Linked DNA regions of Homo sapiens: all the other regions are linked to region 1. The links come from fine-mapping of genetic effects on gene expression. A gene starts in region 1. Each other region holds a variant in brackets. All regions are shown on one strand. Distances are between the middles of the regions.

Region 1 (6,916 bases):
CCTCATGTAGGTGGAATCATACGGTATTTATGGTCATTTTGTGACTGGCTTATTTCACTTAGCATAAAGTCCTCAAGGTTCACTCCTGTTGTATGTAGCATGGGTCATAGCTTAGCTGAGCCTCCCTTAAACGTGCTGAGAACACATTAGCCTACAGTTGGGTAAAGCTGTCTAACACAAAGCCTATAATGAAGTATTGAATATCTCATGTAGTTTATTGAATACCGAAAATGAAAAAGAGAATGGTTGTATGGGTACTTGAGGCACAGTTTCTCCCAAGTGCATATTGCTTTTGCATCATCATAAAGTTGAAAAATCTTGAATCAAACCACTGGACTTTGGGGACTGTCTGTACTGAGGCTCAGGAAGGTAAAGTGACTTGTCCAGGTGGCCCAGCCAGGAAGTGGCACAGGCAAGGTTCAACCTCCATCCATTGTGCTGTGCTGAAATTCAGCCTCAGATTCCTCTGTGGGTAAGGGTCTGAACCTGCACTAGGAGGAAATGGGGTGCCCTTGCTCATTGGAGCCGCTCCCTGGACAGAGTGAAGGGGGTGCAAACTAATGAGATGGGCGTGCCTTATTAAAAATGGCTTGGCAAGGGAGGGGTTGAGCCTCATTGGAAAGTAGATTTGCACGGCTTTGGTGAGCTCTTAGCTCGGGAGGAAGAGTGAAGCCAGAGGAACTTTGCCTGCAGGAATCATTTGACTGTTCCATGTGCAGGTGTCTTGATTCTGTGATAGCTTATTAGCTTATTATAGTTGGCTTCTCTGCAGCCTTCCTTTGGGTTCACTGCCCCCTCCTGGACACTTCCCTCCCCCACATGGTGTTAACAGCAGATCAGAGCCTCAGCAGGTGTTCGCTTGGTGGTGGTAGTAAACGTGAGTGTGCCTGCGCACAGCGGCCTTTACCCCATCCTGATAGTCTGCAGCTGGAGCTCTCACAGGCTCTGGACAGCAGAGGAGAAGAAAACCTATGAAGGGGAGGAGTGGTGGAGGCAAGGCACAAAGGCTGCAGATTAGGGTTTGTAAGTGGACACATCCCCCAAAAGACAGGCAGTCCACGTTCAAGGCTGTTTGCCTAGCACAGCTTCTCTGGGCCCCCTAGGAGCTCGGCCTGCTCCAGGGTGGCTGAACCTGAGGAGGGAGCCTGCAGGGCTGCGCTCTCCACTGTCCCGCATTCCCGCAGTGGGGCTGTGGACTGAGTTACCTTTGTGTCCTGTGTTGGTTCCACAGGGATTGTGTGCACACTCTGCATTCCAGGGACACGTGGCTGAAGAAAGCAAGAGTGGTGAGGCTTGGAGAAGTACCCTACAAGGTAACTGGAGCTGGGGGGTCCCTGTGGGGAGTGGTGACACAGGCCTGTAGCTGAGCGGGAGAGCTGGGGGCAGAGAAGTGATGATGAGCCTCCCAGTCCTGCCCAGGATCCTGATCAGAAATGTCTCACTTTCCCGGCTTGAGCAGGATTCAAGGAGGAGAGAAACATTTAAATTGTCTTATTAATAAGACATTTGTAAGAAATGGATCTTCCAAAACACAAAAGAAATCTAGGCCAAAAAGTAGGCCTCAGACTCCTGTTGTGAATTCAAAGGTTCTACAGGTTGGAATTGAGTTACTGGGTCCTGGGAGGTCAGAGCCCTGCTTTATAGCAGCACGTTCTCCAGTCAGATTGCCCTTCTGTTTGGCAGTTCACTGAGCATTTTGCATGTATGTGATCTCTGTTGCCTCAAAAGCCATAGGAATTGGCATTATGATGCCCATTTTACAGATGAGAAAACTGAAGCTCAGGGCAAGTGACTTGTCCAAGTCCCCACAGTTAGTAAAATGGCAGAGCAGAGCCCAGGTGAGAATCCCAGGCTCTGCCTTAAAGCCAGTGCTCCTTTCACACTGTGCTGCGGCACTGTTAGGCTGGTTGCTCTTGAGGAACACGAACCGAGCGAGGTCCCACAGAGACTATTCACAGGACACACAGCTCCGTACGACCGGAAGTGTACAGTGGCTGATCACAGAGACCATTTACTTCTCATCAGACCCCAGGAGTCCTTGGGGGTTGCAAGACTCCGGGAAGCTGAGTGGGGAGTGGAGGGGCCTCCGCTTAGTGGGAAAGGCTGCAGGCGCTGGTCACAGTCACTGCCAGCAGCAGGCTGGAGTGGGCGATGCCCCCTGCCTGGGCCTGCAGGGTTGCTGAGGATTTTCTCTGCACCATCTCACCTGTCTTTTGTGCTGGAACCAGCATAGCAGTGTTCAGTTGAAATGTAACGTGAGCCACACATTTAAATTTTTTAGTAGCTACATTAAAAACCAAAAACAGGTGGAATTTTAACATTAAAATATATCCAGATATATCTAAAATACTATTTCAGCAGTAAGAAATATTTTAAAGTGTTGATGAGATATTTAAATCCATTTTGTTCCTAAGTCTCTCTAATCTTCTGTGTATTTGACTTTCTGTACCTTAGTTCAGACCAGCCACGTTTCAGGTGTGCAGTGGCCACACGTGACTGGTGGCTGTCATGGTAGCACAGTTCTGGAATCCCAAATCTCTCAAATTCACCCCTTGTTCTGATCCCCACCACCCCAGCTCCTGCCTCAGTATCTTTTGCTTGGGCAACAGCCACAGCCTCCTTCCCAGCCTGAATCCATTCCCCTGTCAGTCACTAGGCTCTTTCTGTGCATCTTGGCCATCCTTGTCCCACCTTGGCCAGCGCCTTTAGTCTGAGTCCCGCACCCTCCCCATGGTGCACAGTGATGTTCTGGTGCTCACTGCCTCTGCATTCCAGAGGACTTAGGCCCCAGGTCCCAGTGTTCTCCCACCTCTGTGCCCTGTGGGGTCCAGCCCTGTTCTCTTGGGCAACCCCTTGCCCCTTTAAGCCTCTGCTCAGGCGGGACCTGTTTTGAGCAGCCTTTCTTGCCTCCACTGTCCTCAGGGCTGGGCAATGGCTTGCCTCTGAGCTCCTGTTCCACCCTGTACTCATCACGCTGAGTCGTAGCTCTGTCTCTTCCCCTGCAGGAGCCTGAGCTCCTAAGAGCAAAGACTGTCCTCGCTCCATCCCTCCTTCATGACTGGGTCATGGCCTGGTCTCCAGGAGATCCCAGTGGAAGTTTACTGAACAGTGTGCTGGGTGAATGGCTTCTCAGAAAGGGACGGTTGTCAGAACTCAGAGTCCCTCTGTCCCTGAAGTGGTGACAGAGAGGGTGCGCCCAGAGATCATGGCAGGAATGGACATGAGAGCTCGCAGGCCACCCCCAACCTGGGGAATGGCTTTTCACATTTTTAAAGGGTTATAAGAATGAGAAGAATAAAGAATATGTGATGGAGGCCACGCATGACCCTTTACAGAACAAGCTTGTGGGCCCCTGCACTAGAGGAAGTCTGTATGCTGAGGCCCAGGGGCCAGCCCTCAGCCGCACGCCCATGCCTGACTCCTCTAAGAGTTACGTGACTCTGTCCTTGCCTGTCCTGCGCCCCTCTCACCACTTCACTCCCCAGGGAAGATCTTGGCCTTGGCCACTGCACGCTGTTGGGGAGCACACTGGGAGTCCTGAACTGTCAGTGCTTTCTAGGGCGTGTGAGCAGACATAGGTTATATGTTGAGACACAGGCTCTACTGATGGACAGTTACCTGAATTGTAAATCCTGGTTCTTGTCACTTACCAGCCATCAGCTCTTAAGTGACTTTGTCTCTCAGTCTCAGTCACTGCTATCAGTGATGACAGCACAGAATATAGGCTAGTGGATGAAAGTGTGGGCTCTGGCCCTTACGAGCTGTGTGACTTTAGGCAAATCATTTACCCCGTCTGTGGTGTTCATCTGTAAAATGGAAACAATAATAAGACCTACCTTGTGGGTTTGTTGAAAAAATTAAATAATAACATATAAAGCACTGAAGATAGGCTGGGCGCAGTGGCTCATGCCTGTAATTCCAGCACTTTCGGAGGCCAAGGCAGGTGGATCATTTGAGGTCAGAAGTTTGAGACCAGCCAGGCCAATATGGTGACACCCCATCTCTACCAAAAATATAAAAATTAGCTGGGCATGGTGGCGGGTACCTGTAGTCCCAGCTACTCAGGAGACAGGCACGAGAATCACTTGAATCCGGGAGGTGGAGGTTGTAGTGAGCTGAGATCACACCAGGGCACTCCAGCCTGGGCAACAGAGTGAGACTCCGTCTCAGGGGGATAAAAAAACAAAAAACACCGAGAATAGTGTCTGGGACAGAGAATGTTCCATAAATGTTAGCTAGTGCTTGTAGTAAGAAAAGGGGAGCAGCCGGGCACGGTGGCTCACGCCTGTAATCCCAGCCCTTTGGGAGGTTGAGGCGAGTGCATCACCTGAGGTCAGGAGTTCGAGACCAGCCTGGCCAACATGGTGAAACCCCCGTCTCTACTAAAAATACAAAAATTAGCCGGGCGTGGTGGCAGGCACCTGTAATCCCAGCTACTCAGGAGGCTGAGGCAGGAGAATTGCTTAAACCCAGGAGGCAGAGGTTGCAGCGAGCCAAGATTGCACCACTGTACTCCAGCCTGGGCGACAGAGCGAGACTCTGTCTCAAAAAAAAAAAAGGGAGAAAAAGCACCCCAGCTGGTAGGTGTGTTCTGAGGGTTCACCAGGTACCAGGCATGCGGCACTGAGCATGGTGCCTGGCCCGGTGCTGAGGAACTGGATGCCTTTGTTGTAAACGGTGGCCGTGTCCTCTGGTGCAGATGGTGAAAGGCTTTTCTAACCGTGCTCGGAAAGCCCGACTTGCTGAGCCCCAGCTGCGGGAAGAAAATGACCTGGGCCTGTTTGGCTACTGGCAGACAGAGGAGTATCAGCCCCCAGTGGCCGTGGACGGGAAGGTAAGGGCAGCATCAGAAGGGCTCAGGACCAGGCCGCCTTGTTCCCCTGCTGGCCAAATGCTGACTTGCTCACCCGACACAGGTGCCCCGGAACGAGTTTGGGAATGTGTACCTCTTCCTGCCCAGCATGATGCCTATTGGCTGTGTCCAGCTGAACCTGCCCAATCTACACCGCGTGGCCCGCAAGCTGGACATCGACTGTGTCCAGGCCATCACTGGCTTTGATTTCCATGGCGGCTACTCCCATCCCGTGTGCGTGAGGGGCCTTCGATGGAGGCTAAACACAGGGATGGGGAGGGGTGGCTCCAGAGATGGGGATGGAAAGCTGGCATGGGGCTGCTGGGAGTTGAGGCCTGGTGGCTCCAATTTTCAGGATGTTACACTGGATTTGCAAAGTCAGTGCTTTACCAATTCTGGCTTCCCTCCAGAGGGAACGGAGCCAATGAAACTGGCATCGTAATGCTGGATTAAAACGTTCTTCCCAGGTTTAGGGACTCACAGGCTAGTGAGCAAAAAACAGTCAGCATCTTTCCCCGGCAGCTGCCTGGTTAGTGAGCTCTGTTCCATGATGGGTGAGGCTGGATAGGGGCTTTCACCCCAGCTTTCTTCGGCAGAATCTGGGGAGGAAGAGGCAGTGCCAGCTTCCACAGGCCTGCCTTCTGCACGGAGGATGTGGGACACTGGCTGACCCGCGACATCCTTCAGGACCCCTAGTGCTCAGATGTGGCCCACTGTCTTCCACAAACTGGGGAGGGAGGAGAGGCAGAGCAGGCAGCAGGTTCGAGGGTTGACATCGCGTTGTGTCCCCACAGGACTGATGGATACATCGTCTGCGAGGAATTCAAAGACGTGCTCCTGACTGCCTGGGAAAATGAGCAGGCAGTCATTGAAAGGAAGGAGAAGGAGGTAAGCGCATATGCAGGACTGAGGGACAGCAGAAGCGGGAAGCAACACTCAGCGGGTGGCCTCTTCCTTCCCCAGGCCGCCTCCGTGTGCTCCCAGGCTCTTCCCAGCCCTCTCTGACATCATGGCAGGCACCCGAGGGAGCGAGCACTGAATACAGCAGGCTCCTGCCCACCCCGCAGACTATCACTGTCCCTGAGGAGCCTGGGTCCGGGCTCTGGGGTCTACTGCCCCTGCTGCCCACACCTGCCTCTGTCTTGAATTGCCTGTGTCCAGGTTCTGGAAGACCTCACCCACTAAAGATTTTGGAGTCAGTAACGATTAAAAAGTTATCTGTTTTTGTGGCTTTCAGGTATAGTATATCACTTTGTAAATCAGATCAATTTTTTGGAAGTGAGACTTGGTGTGAAGGAGAGGCTATATTCTAAAGTGGTGTATATATCTGTCTTTACATTCACAGTTTCCATCTTAATATTTTTCCTGAAAATGTCAGTGCTTAACACTTTTCTCCCACTTCATTTTTGCCTGCAGAAAAAGGAGAAGCGGGCTCTAGGGAACTGGAAGTTGCTGGCCAAAGGTCTGCTCATCAGGGAGAGGCTGAAGCGTCGCTACGGGCCCAAGGTCAGTGCAGGTTCTTTGCAGAGAAGACAAGCTCAGGGTCAGTTTCTTGGAGATGCAGCTCAGAAAGGCCTGGCCCAGATTCTGCCCCAGCCTCAAGTCAGGGATAGCTTTGTGTTAGGACACCTCAGTCTTCTGTCTCTAAGGCCGCTTGTTTTTACCTTGTTGGGAAAGGTGTCCCTGGAGTGAGGCCTCAGCTGGCTCTTCTGCCCCAAGCCCTGTCCCAGTGTCCCCGTTTCTACTGTCCACATGAGCAATGCCATGGGTCTGATTTGGCGCTGAACACATAGGGAGGGCCAAGTGTCCTGCATTTGGTGCACCCTTCCGCCTTCCAGTGTTCCCAGTGCCTGTGACCATGCTGCAGGCCTGCAGTGGCCCGCTCAGTACCTCTCTCACAGCACCTGCCATGTGCCAGGCCAGGCTTGGACACAGGTGTGAATTTGACATGCAGCCCTCAAGGGGGCCCCTCCCTGGGGCAGATGGACCCTAGGCCCAGTTACATGGTATAGTCAGTGCTGTGTCAGACACAGCAGAAACTGCTCTGGCATGTTTTGTTCCCTC
Region 2 (6,916 bases), 810 kb after region 1:
CTTGGAGCAGCTTCCATTTTCTTCTCTTTGTAAAATGTGCAAGTGGAGATCAATGCTCTGTGAGATCCAGCCTGGCACTAATGTGTTATATCCCAAGCCCATCTCCTGGCCAGCAGTGGGGCTCATGACGAGAGGTGGGCAGGGCACTACTTGGGGTGATTTCCCTTGTCCACTGCTTCCCAGTGCTGGCCTGGCGGGCTCTGCCACTGGCATCCCATGAGGTGATAGGCTGGTGCTGAGGGCGAGGCACTGCTCACAAACCTGAGCAGAGGGGGGCCCTGCAGCTGCGTAACCCACCACCCACCCCTCCACCTCCGCCCCAACCTTGCAGGTGCACCCTTTGCTCCCGGGCTCATCCACCATCATGATCCATGACTTGTGCCTCGTCTTCCCGGCCCCAGCCAAGGCTGTCGTTTACGTGTCGGACATTCAGGAGCTGTACATCCGTGTGGTTGACAAGGTCAGTGGAAGCTTCATGACGGGGCACCCTCGGCTGACCTGCAGGAACTGGGAGGGAGGGGACTGTGGGAGGAATGTTCCGCATGGCCTTTGCTTTTGCTCCTGTGGTCTGCATCCCTTCCCCTGTGAGCTTGCGGAGCTGTCTCCCATCTCCTTCGCTCCATGTGGAGGATCCAGAGTCCCTTCAGTAAGGGACTTCTTCATCCCAGATGACATACCCATGAGGCTTGGCAGTAAATCCTGCTGTCTCTAAATTAGCCATGACCTGGGAATTCATGTCTTCTGGCTGGTGTAGGTTATTAACCAACGAGGCACATGCCCTGCTGAGCATGTATTTTCTTCCCAGAATATAGGTTTTGGGTTCACTGGGGTGTCAGTGGCAAATGAGTACAACTCACCCATGCCAAGCGCCATTGCAAAAAGAGACAAGGGATAGATCTCGGTTTATCTTTCACACTGATACAGAATTTTTATTACTCCAGATATCTGAGGTGACTGAAGCTGGGCTTCCAGAGGGTTGCGGTCAGGTTCCTCAGTGGATAGAAGGGCTGGTAATTAAAAGGGGAGTGTTCATGTGGCTTAGGCTCCTTAAGAAGCTAATATGCTGTACCCAGCCTCACATACTCCTTGTATAATCTCATTTCCACTGCTGTTTGCTAATCATCTGTTTCTTCGCTGTGTATTTCTGATTCTTATTTCCTAAAGTTCTTACTGTATTATACACTGCCAGGTGTGAGCTGTTCAGTCAGTGAGCATTTATTGAGCTCCTACTGGATGCTGCTGTTCTAAGTGGTGTCTCATCTCCCTAATTAGTGTATTAGTTACTTAAGAGTAGAATGTGGAATTTATGCCTCTAAGTATCCCCAAGCTCCCCCTCATCGATTTTCATTTGCTGACTGGCTGATAGTCCAGAAGTCAACCTGGGTGACTCTCCTGATTCCCAGGTCTGTGGGTTGAGGTTAGTGATGCTATCTCAGAAAGTCACGGAGCACCATAGATGGTAGGATTGGTCTTTTGGAGGCTGCCCCTGAACCTCTGTCCCCATGATGCAGGTGGAGATTGGGAAGACAGTGAAGGCATACGTCCGCGTGCTGGACTTGCACAAGAAGCCCTTCCTTGCCAAATACTTCCCCTTTATGGACCTGAAGCTCCGAGCAGCCTCCCCGATCATTACATTGGTGTGAGTTCTCCTAGGGGTCAGAGGAGGGCACCTCAGAGACAGTGCTGACCCCAGCTGCAGCCTTTCCCACGGGGTGGTCTTGGAGAAGTCCCAGCCCTTCCCTCTGTTTCAGGGCCCTTGATGAAGCCCTTGACAACTACACCATCACATTCCTCATCCGCGGTGTGGCCATCGGCCAGACCAGTCTAACTGCAAGTGTGACCAATAAAGCTGGACAGAGAATCAACTCAGCCCCACAACAGATTGAAGTAAGACGAGTTCTTCCCACACCATGTGGGATCAGCCCAGTGCTGGGGGTTGGGAGTGTCTTTATAGTACAGTCCAGGAAGCTACTGTAGAGAAGCCATATAAAAATCTGTGTCCCACAATGTCCTCTCATCAAAAGGCAGCTGTTACGAGCTCTAGGGATCTGGGAGGCAGCAAAGTTAGACTGGCAGAACCAGAGGGAGGGGGCCAAGTGACTTGACCTTTCCTCTGTGACTTGGGGGATTGTGTGGCTCAGAGAAGGGGTGTGCCTGGTCACATGGCAAGGGGACACACCAGGACTATTCCCAGAAAGCACTGACTGGGTGGAAGCTTAGACAGATGCTGACTCATGTGTAGAAGAACTCCTTAACCATTGGTCCTGAGCCTTAGAACAGGCACTTCGAGGGCAGTGGGCACCTGTCACAGGGGCTGCGTGAGCAGAGGTATCATAAAGGGAACTCCTGAAGTAGGTGATTCCTGGATGAAGGGAGCTTTGAGGTCCCCACACCAGCTCAGTGTGTGGTATGGGGCTGTCTCGGGGCATTAGGTTATGACAGGAGCCCCACTGCAGCCACAGGCCATGGCAGTTGTGGCCCAGGCATTGTTTTAAGTCTATTCACAGCAGCGGCATTAAACCAGCCCTGCCAGCATCCACCCTGCATCCGGGCCACTCGGGGGCTGGTGAGCGTCATTAATCTGTGATCCGAAGCAGGTGGGTGCCATCTGTGTCTCTAGATGGAGGTGCACCTTTCTTCTGGTGATGAGAAATTTGTTTCTGCCCATCAATAGCACAGCTACAGAGACCGATACTCCCACACAAGTAGCACCCTGGCCACCTCCTGCGTCCACTCACCTACTCTTGCCAGGCAGGCTCTTGTAGGGGTTTCAGGAGGAGCAGGTGGGGGCTTCACCTGCTGCAAAGAGTGGCACCAACGTCCCTGGTCTCCTCCCAGGCTAATCCGGAGGGTGTGCTAGAAGAGCAACCTCTGGGGGTCTGGGTGCTCCCATATCGGCAGGGCTGTCCTGTGGGGCCACCCCTGGCTCCACAGGCCAGGTGGCTGGGGCTGTACATTGCTAATGTGTCCCCAGGCGCTGCTGACATTGCTGCTTAGTGACCACACACTGAGAACCGCTGCTCTAAGGGGATGGCTCAACTGCATAAAAGCCATCCCTCCAAGGGGACGGCCCAGCTTTTGGGTTTTAACATCTAGGGAAAGTGAAACACAGTCACAAACAGAAGAACACACCCCAGAGAACCAGGGAGCCTCGGCCAGTGGCTGGGAGACAGCCCCCAGCATTGGCCCAGGACCCTGGGCCCTCTGGTCACTGCTCAGAGAGAAGTGATGTCCATGTCCCAGGTTTTCCTCTCATGAAACATGTAGTGTGTGAGTTATGCTTGGCGCCATGGGCTTGGGGCACAGTAGTCCTTTCTCTCCTGTGTCTCTCAACAGGTCTTTCCCCCGTTCAGGCTGATGCCCAGGAAGGTGACACTGCTTATCGGGGCCACGATGCAGGTGAGAGCCAAGAGGCCACGTCCTGCTCCAGCCCCAGTGCAGGCCACCACCTGGTTCCAGGCACGCCGCCTCTGGCCCTGCGTGCAGTGACTGGGAGAAGAAGGCAGAAGCTGCCTGCACTGGGGCCCTGGCTCTCTGAGTGGGAGGTGCGGGCTGCCTGGCATGACGGGCACTGACACGCCGCTGTTTCCTCCCC[G/A]CTCAGGTCACCTCCGAGGGCGGCCCCCAGCCTCAGTCCAACATCCTTTTCTCCATCAGCAATGAGAGCGTTGCGCTGGTGAGCGCTGCTGGGCTGGTACAGGGCCTCGCCATCGGGAACGGCACTGTGTCTGGGCTCGTGCAGGCAGTGGATGCAGAGACCGGCAAGGTGGTCATCATCTCTCAGGTAACAGGCGTGCTATTGGAGACTGGGCAGCTGTGCCTGGGACAGAAGCCTCTTTACTGTGTTTGAGTTCTACCTCTGAGGACCACCCCTCTCCAAGGGTGCTGCTTCTGCCCCCTGGGTCTGCAGTCACTGCAGGGGCCCTGGTGCAGGACAGCCCTGCCAATATGGGAGCACCCAGACCCCCATTGGTTGTTCTTCTCCAAGCTGAGTCTCCCAGTCCTTCCAGCTGCTCCTTATGGGACAGGGTGTTCAGCAACTCCCGGCCCCAAAGGGCCCTTCCAGTGGAGGATGATGGCAATCATGGTGAAGGCAGATGCTGCTCTGAGCACTTTGCCTTCATCTCCTTGAATCCTCTCAAGGCTCAGGGCTAAAATCAGGGCCTTTGCATTCTCCCTGACCTCCTTCGCCAGCAGTGACTTGCAGAAGCATCTCGGAAGGCTGCTTTGGGGTTCCACTCACAGCTGCGCCAGAAACCTGGTCTGTAAGAAGAGCCTTCTGTGATGTGTAATGCAACTGTGGACAGAAACCTGTTTCAGAGTCAGTCATACCATTCCTCATGAGAACTAGGTCCCCTGGAAGCAGTCCGTGCAGTCCTGAGTTCAGAACCTGTAAACACAGCACCCCAGAAGCTGGCAAGTGCACCGCCCTAGAGGGGGTGCAGGGAAATGCTTGTTCTCAGAGGCTGACTGTGATCCGTCATTGAGTTCATTGATTTACTCCTTTTCCCAGTGTGTGTCAATTATGAAGACAAAGAGAAAGACTTGGGGATGTAAAAACCTGTCCTGGGGATGGGGTAGGGTTCAGATGGGCTTCCTGGAGCGTGACATTCCAGACCACAGGAGACTCTGTGGTTTTTTTTCTCTAAAAAGGAGTGCAGCCTCAGGAGCTGGCTGATTTTTCTCCTGAGGGCGTAGGTAAAGGGCAGCTGGCTAGAAATTCAGCAAGAGGGGCACAGGGCCCTGCGTATTCCTTGTCTTTGTGGTCTAACCTTGCTGGGCACCCTCCCTTCTAGGTCCCCCATCTGGCAGGTTGGGGAGGTGCTGGGGAAAGGCCCTGGTGGTCCTTGGCAGGTGGAGGGGCTGCACCACGAGCCCTATCTGAAAGGCATGTTCTGAGCCCAGGCAGGCAGAGGTTTCACCTGCGGCGCCTTGTCCATGCCTGGAATGTGATTCTGGTCAGATGCTTCCAGTTCCATCTGTCCAATCCAGAGCACACAACCAGCACCCCAAGGCCGTGGGGTGGGCCAGGACTAGCAGGAAGAGACTGAGCAGAAAGATGAGTGAAAGGAGGGGAATGGGTGCTTTTCAAGCACTTACTGTGTGCCAGGCATTAGCCCAAGTCATGAGCCTCAAGATGGGCTCAGCCTGAGCACGTCAGAGAGTCTAAGGGTTTTAATAGCCTCAGTTCAGCATGACTCAGCAGCACTAGGAAGAAGCCAGGAGAGTTAGTCTTTGGCCAGATTAATAGGAGTGTGGAGTTCAGAATGAAGGAGGTTATAAGTTCTGATCAGACTCTACAGGGCTCCTGCATTCGTCCCTGTACCCTGCTCAGTCAGAGACAGGCAGGCTGGATTTGGGGTTGGGAGGGCCTGGAGACCTTTTGCTTGAGGGCAGCCAGGCCTAAGGAAGAGCAGGCACCAGTCCCCGGCCCCAAGTCTGCAGTGCTGACCTGGAACAGCTGGATCAGACAGGGCAGCAGCCTCAGGGGACTGGGTTGGGACCTGCGGGGCCTTGGGAGAGGCAGTGGCTGGCCCATGAGGGGAGAGCCACTCACAAAGCCAGGCCTCCCTCGGCAGAGGAGCATGGTGCTGGTCATCCTGAGGGGCCTTCTCGCCACAGACTCTGAGCCGCAGCCTGCTTCCCTTGAGGGGTCCCTTCCTGAAACATCCCTGGCCAGCACTGCATCCCCACACCTAAGTGCCACCCTGTTTCCCCAGGACCTCGTGCAGGTGGAGGTGCTGCTGCTAAGGGCCGTGAGGATCCGCGCCCCCATCATGCGGATGAGGACGGGCACCCAGGTGAGGGGACCTCCTGGGCTCTGAATCCTGGTTCCCGAAGAGCCACTGCTGGGACCCTGTCCTCAAGTTAGAGTGCTTCTCCACCTCCTCCATCTGCCTGGCCCGGGTATCTAGGGCCTGCTTCCCACCTGTCCCCACCCAGGGAGACACCCTCCATTGCTCTCTGGTAGCCACTGATGAAGGCCTGCTTCCTGCTGGCCTGTCACCTTCCCACATCTGGAATAGTACCAGGTGCCTAACAGGAGCACAGTGACTGTGGCACTTAACTCAACTCCGTGCTGTCTTGGACATTAATCCATTTGGTGTTCATAGCAGCCCTGGGAGGCTGGTGTCAGAACCATCTTCGTGTCGCAGATGAGCAAATGAACACACAGAAAGCTTAAGACCCGTGCCCAGGGCCACACAGCTAGGAAGTGGCAGCAGTGGGAGTGGACTGGGCAGCCTGGCACAACACCTGCTGTGGCCTTTTGCCGTCTTGCCTCCGCCTGTGCCCTCAAGCCGACACAGCAAATAGAGACTAAAGGAGCCAGGGACCCCACCCACACGTGCCCTGTGAGCAGGGACCCCAGCTAGATTAGGAGAGAGGGGCCCGGAGGAACCAGCACTGTGGGGCAGCACGAGCTGTGCTGCTGGGGGACCCATGGCCTCCTAGAGCTCCAGGGACTCCTTCCGGAAATGAGTATCTTGGCCATGGAGAGGTGCAGCCCGCTGCAGGGGAGGGACAGTATGGGGAAAACAGTCCCACCTCTGGTTTGCTCGTTTGATATTTCATCAAAATTCCCAAACCTGTGCCATGCTCTTCTCTAGTTGGGGAGGAATTGGGTTCATCTCCCACTGCTTGAAGGAGGCAGCAAAGCTTCTGGGGGCATTCCCAGTGCTGGGAGCTACTGCTCACTGGGCCTGACTTCTCCCCTGCAGATGCCCATCTATGTCACCGGCATCACCAACCACCAGAACCCTTTCTCCTTTGGCAATGCCGTGCCAGGCCTGACCTTCCACTGGTCTGTCACCAAGCGGGACGTCCTGGACCTCCGAGGGCGGCACCACGAGGTAGGTAACCACCCCCTCCAGAGCTCACCTCCCACCCCTGTCCCAGGCCAGCACCCCGAGTGGCAGGG
Region 3 (6,916 bases), 23 kb before region 1:
GTAGCTTCCAAAGGATTAATCAAGTTTGACTGGCGTGATCGGGGAACGCTCTCTGAAGTAGTTTGATCTGTGATTTAAAGGATGGTTGGTATTTTAGCAAGGGGTCACAAAAAGGGGCCGGTATTCTAGTCAGAATGTAATTTGGATATATGGCAATTAAAAATTTACGGTTTTAATCTGATGGAAATGCTACCTGTATTCTTCCCAGCTCAACACTTCACCTCGGTTCCAGCTTGGTAGAGCTTCAATTCTTAGTTTTATGCACTTGGGTGAATTATTTTGGACAAATGTTTTAGCCCTTCTGAATTTCCTCTGTGAAATGTAATAACTGCCTTGCGGGGTGGCTGTGAGTTTTCAGTGGGATAGCATATAAAGCCAAGAGCTTTAGCTTTACCCATGTTAGGTAAATTAGTTGGGCTAGCTGGTGTCATTCAGCCTAAACGGAGGTAAAGATGCACCCAAGTTTATTCTGCTAGCCAGAGGAGCTAGCAGTCAGTTCCCAAGGCAGCTTCCAGGATCTGCAGAGTTACAACCTTTGTTGTGGTTTGGTGGTTTTGTGGGGAAGCATAGACTTAGCAAGTATGGTTTGGGCTGCAGATGACAATAATTTGGTGACTGTCAGTGTAGTTGCTAACACTGTAATAGTGTAGGTTTTAATAGCACCCCTGTACATGCAAATGAAGGTGATACTTGGCTGCTTTTGACAAATAGGAGAAAAGAAAACAGGCTTCCACATGATTTCCTTTGTGTTACTAAAGCACCTCTGGTTTCTTTTCATTTCTTCTCTGTGTTAACACCTTCAGTGATATCCATTAATTCCTTCAACAGCTGTTTATTGAGCGCCTACTATTTTCACACACTGTTCCAGGTACTAGGATAATATTGAACAAGACAGATGAGGCACCTGCTCTCATGATTATAATCTGGGGGGAGGGGTACTTAGAGCAGATAACAAGTTAAAAAAAAACGGATTCACATGATGATAAGAGCTATCACCCTGTGCTAAGACTGCTGTGATAAAACTTATTTGGGTACATAGCAGAAAATGCTTCTATAGATGAAAAGAAAAACCCTCAAACTTATATGGGGCTGGGGGAGAGGCAGCTAAATGGGAATCAGTGTCAGGGAAGGCCTTTGTAAGGAGGTGGCATTTTGAGGCATTTAGTGTAATTTTGAGCCATTCATAGGAAGTTCTGGGGAAAAGAGTTCTAGGCAGAGAGAACAGTGTGTTTAAACACTCTTAGGAGGGAATGAACTTGGCCAGTTGGCTGGACACAGCGAGCGAGGGGCTGGGTAGGAGAAGTGAGCAAGGGCCTGAGCTTGGATACCAAGCTAAGGAGTTGGAATTTTATTCTGAGTGCTATGAGTTGCTGCTGGAAGGTTTACTCCGGTGTTCTTATTAAATCCCAGTAGATGGGCAAGCAGACCACAGTGGTAATTCCTGCCCTACTGAAAGAACACTGAACTCAAGGAGTCTGGTTAGGCATATTAGATAACTCAAGATTTTGGAGAGTCCTGGAAAAGAGTCTCTAGATGCTTAGGGACCAAAAAATAGCAGAGAACAGAAAGTCACCCATATTTCTGCCATCCAGAAATAGCCACCATGAAATAGTGGTCTGTTTCCTTCTAGTCTGTTTTTTATATAGCAGAAAGCATACTGTAAAATCAACTTTGCATGAGTAACATTACATCATATATCGTTTTTCTTTATCTTAAAGGATGACTCAATTATATTTTGTTGTGTGGCTCTGCCATAAGTTACTTAACAATTATCTCATGGTTGGACATTCAGATTATTGTTAGATGCTTTTGAATACTATGAACATCCTTTTGATTCAGAGTTTTTGTGTTTCCTTTATCCCCCTTTCCCTTTTAACTCCTCTACCTTTCTCTTCAAACGGAAATAAAAGCTGTGCTTTTTAACCAACTAGAAAAGTTTGTGATGCCTCTGAAGTATCCTCCTACGTGCATTTTTTTAGATTAGTAGAAATTGAAGTGTTTAGCATCTTTGCCTATTATTAGAGGGCTAACTACCATTGTAAGATCCAGAAATCTTGATTTTAGGGGCACCCTCCTCAAACTGTCAAATCTTAAGCTTTATGCAACCTCTGGCCTTGGAGTAGGCAATCTGTTCTCAGATTTGAAAAAATTAATTTTGAAATAATTTGTACTTCAAAATTTTTCCTTATTTTTTGGTTTCCATACAATGTTTAAAAATGGGAATGCATAAATTCCTTTTTTATAAAACATTTAAAGAAACAACGGAATCAATGATCTAACATTAAAATAAATGCTCCTTTGTTATGAATTTTATTAACATTTAATCATGATTTCATTTAGATCAGAAGGGAGAGTCTTTTTTCCCTCATGCAAAAGTATATTCTTGTGGAATATAAATACCCATCCAGAGAGTCAGCAAGACAAACAATGAAAAGACTGAATTATTAAATAATTTTATATTTTAGGTTAATATTGCAATCCCTTTTGGAACCTCAATAAAAGGTAGAGTATTTTTATTTTCTAAAATTAATTGAAGCAGAGTCATGCAAAGACAAAAGATTTATTTCAGATTCAAGATAATTTGTGTGAATATATTTGCAAAATAGAAAACTATCCTTCCCTGCCATATTATTTGTTAAAACTAATCTATTAATATAATTATTATATGTAAATAAACCATAATTTTAGATACCCCAATTTGACTAAAACCAGCAGCTTATGCATTTTTTATTTCCCTTTAACAAAAAAATAATTACTTTAAGAAAATACTTTTGAATTATTGCTGTCTTTTTCCAACTGTAAGTTTGCTGAGGTGGTTGGTATATGAGTGCCATTTGGGTTACATTGGAAAGGTTTCAGAGCAGTATGTGTTTTGAGCAGTTTGGTCTTGAAGGTTGGCAGAAATGTAGATTAATAGTAATGATGTTGTGGTAAAACTTGGACATGTTTATGTACTTAACATTTTACTTAGGAGTACATTATCCCTAAGACAATTAATTTTGGCAGATAATAAATAAGGTGCTAATTAATGGATGTTGTATTTTCCTGGCAGGAGGTTAGCTGACATTTAAGATCTGGAAGTTAGGTTTTATTTGAGTCCTATGGTATTTTCTGTAGTCATAGGAGAAGTAAAGTGCTGATAAAGGAAGATGGTTTTTACTGTGAATATAGACTAGCCGCAGGTGGGAAGAAGCTGAGAGCTGGTTGCTGACCAGACAGGGGATGGTGAACCAGTGATGGAGATGGGGTTTGGAGACAGGTCATAGAGCCGTTTTATGCCCCTGCCCATAAGCTGCACTGCCTCCACCTTTCCTTCCACCCCTCACCTTATGTTCTGTGTTGTCACCTAGATGCCTTTGAAGATGAGAAACCCCCAAAGAAGAGCCTTCTCTCCAAAGTTTCACAAGGAAAGAGGAAAAGAGGCTGCAGTCATCCTGGGGGTTCAGCAGATGGTCCAGCAAAAAAGAAAGTGGCCAAGGTGACTGTTAAATCTGAAAACCTCAAGGTTATAAAGGATGAAGCCCTCAGCGATGGGGATGACCTCAGGTGAGATGTCTGCAAAGCTTTGTCTCGGGTCTTGATTTTTCTCATCAGAGAATTGTGAATAATGAAAACCTCTATTCTTACTTGTCACTGGGGTCCATGGAAGATTGGATCTTTAAATTCTTCTAGGTACAACTCAGACCGGTAAGAGCTGGAAACTTTTCAGATAAGAACAGTGACAGCATGCAGTAAGTGATTTATTCATGCTTCCACAGCTGGACAGTGGCAAAAGCAGGAGAACCCAGGTCTTCTGACTCCTGGTCCAGTGCTCTTTCTACTACACAAAAATATTAGATGTATACAAAATATTTACCTGCCATTCCAGCTTTATCTCAT[A/G]CTACTGTCCTCAAGCACGCTCTTCTCCGGCCCACCTGAGCTTCTCATCATTCACTGAACACATTCTCCTACTTTCTACACCTGCATTGTGCTCATGGTATTCCCTCTACCTGGAGTGCTTGCTGGCTTCCATCTTGAAGATGCAGATCTGAAACCACCTACTCCAGAGGCTTCACTGATTCTTCCCCCTTCTCTCCTCTGACTTCCTGTAGCGCTTCTAGGGAGTGTGATATGTCTGCCAGTTATTGTTACCATGCCACATACCCAGGCTTACTACCCTGTGACCTCTCAGAGGGCTGGAACCATGTGGGGTTCCTTTTCATATGCCCTGTAGCATCCATTGCAGGCCCTTTTATTTGGCAGAAACTGAACAAGTATTTTTGCAATGAATGAGCATTTATATTAATATGTTGTGAACAGTGATTATGAGCCCAGGGAACACTTGATTTTCTGCCTCCTAAGAAAGTTGAGGGGTGGGGAGAAGAGGAAGAACAGAGGGATAGTTTTTCATTTGCTTCATAAACAAATCCTCACTGCCAGTATCAGCTTTTCCAGCAGCCTCTAGTCCTGGGATGGGAGAGTAGTCCAGTAGAGGGCACAGGAAGGGACACGGGACAGCATGATGATTTTCCGCCATGATCCATCTCTTCTCCTTTTCTCTAGACTTCCCTTCCCGTCCCGCCCCGTCCCGTCCCCATCCCGGTCCCGTCCTTAATGGAGTCTCGCTCTGTTGCCCAGGCTGGAGTCTAGTGATGCAATCTTGGCTCACTGCAACCTCCGCCTCCCAGGTTCAAGTGAGCCTCCTGAGTAGCTGGGACTGTAGGTGCCCACCACCACGCCCAGCTAATTTTTGTATTTTTAGTAGAAACAGGGTTCCACCATGTTGGTGTCGAACTCCTGACCTCAGGTGATCTGCCCTGCTCAGCCTCCCAAAGTGCTGGGCTTACAGGCGTGAGCCATTGCGCCTGGCCTTCCCTAGACTTTTCTGAAGAATACCTCTGAACTTACTGCTTTCCAGTTGCCTCCCCTCACTAGTTGAATTCTATCTCCAGAGACATATACATAGAGATAGGCCACGATACTGCCAAGGAAAGCTCTGGGTCCCCCTTTCCCTCTCCCCTGAGCATTGACTGTGGTCATTTCTGCTATGTTCATTCTAAGGGGAAATTTTTATTGCTGGTGTTTTGAGAGAAAGTGGTACTCTAAAAAAAGAGTGTATTATTAGAGCTCAAGATTGATGATTGGTTATTTTAAATGTTTATACCAAAATCCTAGATAATATTCTCACTTGGTACCAAGTGCCAAAGTTTACACAAGTTAAAAGTAACTGGATACTCTAGACACATTTTATATATGAATTTGCAGAAATATATTACGTATCAGCAAGTACTTAGCCTTGAGCCATTGTTTAGCCAGCTACTTATCTATGTTATTATCTACTTAGCTAGCTAGCTGTCTATGTCTCTTGTTATTTATGACTCACCTATGTGTAGTTACATCCCTGCTTGAAGTTAGAATGCTATGAATTTCAGTCTCCTTACATCATATTTCTTAAAGATGGAAAAGAAGTCTGAGTAGGCTTATAGTAGGATATATAAATGGAGATTTTATTCTGTTCTTTCTGGCCTCCAACTGCACATATATCACACAGATATCACAGTTCTGGAACTCATTATTATTTTGGTGTCTTCTAATTTTTCCTTGTCATGTCCAGGCACAGCTATGTTTTCTTTCACACGATCTAGATTGTAGGTTTTTTAACAGCACATCTGGTAGTAATTAGACAGATGATCAGAGCACATCTTGATGAGATTTGGAACACATGTTGATGGAGGAAGTGAGGCTCAGAGCTTACTAATCATCTTTAAATAGTTGCAACAGATTCTCAATAAATAGGAGGGGTTTTAAAAATTCCATTTAGCTTGAATGGAACACTAGGATGTCTGAGTCTTCTTCATCTTCCTTCCTGTGGTCTTTACACAGGGACTTTCCAAGTGACCTCAAGAAGGCACACCATCTGAAGAGAGGGGCTACCATGAATGAAGACAGCAATGAAGAAGAGGAAGAAAGTGAAAATGATTGGGAAGAGGTTGAAGGTGAAACATCTTTCTTTGTTTTCAGAACTGTTTGGTTCTGTTTGTTTTTTTGTTTGATTCTGTTTGGAGTCAGATCACTAATTGCAATCCTTTTGTTTTCTTTTGAGCTAATTAGACCACAGATAAGGTTGTACTAGGGACTTGCTTTGATATATATGGAAAAACTCATGGCCAAGTTACCAAAGAAGGCTGTTTACTCTCTTCCTCTGGTGACTGTCAATGGGGTAGATATAAATAGAGAGGCAGCACTATTTAGGAGAAGGAGCACAGGCTTTGAAAGTAGTTAGAATTGGGTTCAGTGCTCAACTTTGCCACTTAGGTGGCAGTGTGAGTGAGTAATTTAATCTTGAGCAAGTAACTTCACCTCTCTGAACTGAGTTTTCTCATTGGTAACACTCTGTAAACACTGAATGTTTAGTGTGAGCCATTCACAGTATAGGCTGTAGGATTATTGTGGGGAAAAGAAAGTTTGCAAATGTAATGGGCCTAATGTATCATACACTCACAGTAAATACCAGCTAATGTTATCATCCCTGATTCCTTCTGTCTGGCCTGACTTTTCCTCACCTTTTTATTTTGAAAGTGTTCAAATTTATAAAAAGAGTGAAAAATGTAATATATGTCCTTCACCTAGGTTCATTAACATTTTGCCACATTGAATGTATGTTTCTCTCTGTAAATATTCATTGTGGAACCATTTGAAAATAAGTTGTAGATATTCTGATACTCCACTGCTGAATACTTCAGCCTGCATTTCCTAATAATTAGACATTCTCCTGCATGACAAAATGACCTCATCACACCTACGAAAATGAAAAATAAGTCCCCAATTGTTATGAAAGCATCCTTTATGCCTGTTTCTTTTTCCATACCAAGATCCAACCAAGCCTTGTATTTGGTCTTTATGTCACTTTACTCTCTTAATATAGAGCAGTATTTCC

Evidence for each region. PIP is the estimated chance that this variant, and not a neighbour inherited with it, causes the effect.
Region 2: its variant is fine-mapped to the expression of XPC-AS1 in subcutaneous fat (GTEx, PIP 0.98).
Region 3: its variant is fine-mapped to the expression of XPC-AS1 in whole blood (INTERVAL, PIP above 0.99).

The regions. Positions count from the first base shown.
Region 1 is chr3:14,146,732-14,153,647 of GRCh38, reverse strand. It overlaps XPC-AS1 (XPC antisense RNA 1), which reads right to left and starts at 4,086. Exons shown (of 2, transcript XR_001740603.2): 1 at 4,046-4,086; 2 at 197-3,806. It overlaps XPC (XPC complex subunit, DNA damage recognition and repair factor), which reads left to right. Exons shown (of 16, transcript NM_004628.5): 11 at 1,232-1,313; 12 at 4,700-4,834; 13 at 4,917-5,086; 14 at 5,647-5,740; 15 at 6,269-6,358. RefSeq lists enhancers at 2,293-2,793, 4,411-5,095.
Region 2 is chr3:13,336,719-13,343,634 of GRCh38, reverse strand. It overlaps NUP210 (nucleoporin 210), which reads left to right. Exons shown (of 40, transcript NM_024923.4): 21 at 332-460; 22 at 1,512-1,639; 23 at 1,752-1,887; 24 at 3,337-3,399; 25 at 3,602-3,781; 26 at 5,718-5,798; 27 at 6,717-6,848. Among named protein-coding and RNA genes, the nearest start is that of NUP210, 80 kb to the left of the region's middle. The variant G/A (reference allele first, on the strand shown) is at 3,596.
Region 3 is chr3:14,169,497-14,176,412 of GRCh38, reverse strand. XPC (XPC complex subunit, DNA damage recognition and repair factor) reads left to right here. Exons shown (of 16, transcript NM_004628.5): 2 at 3,351-3,546; 3 at 5,863-5,975. Among named protein-coding and RNA genes, the nearest start is that of XPC, 5.6 kb to the left of the region's middle. The variant A/G (reference allele first, on the strand shown) is at 3,880.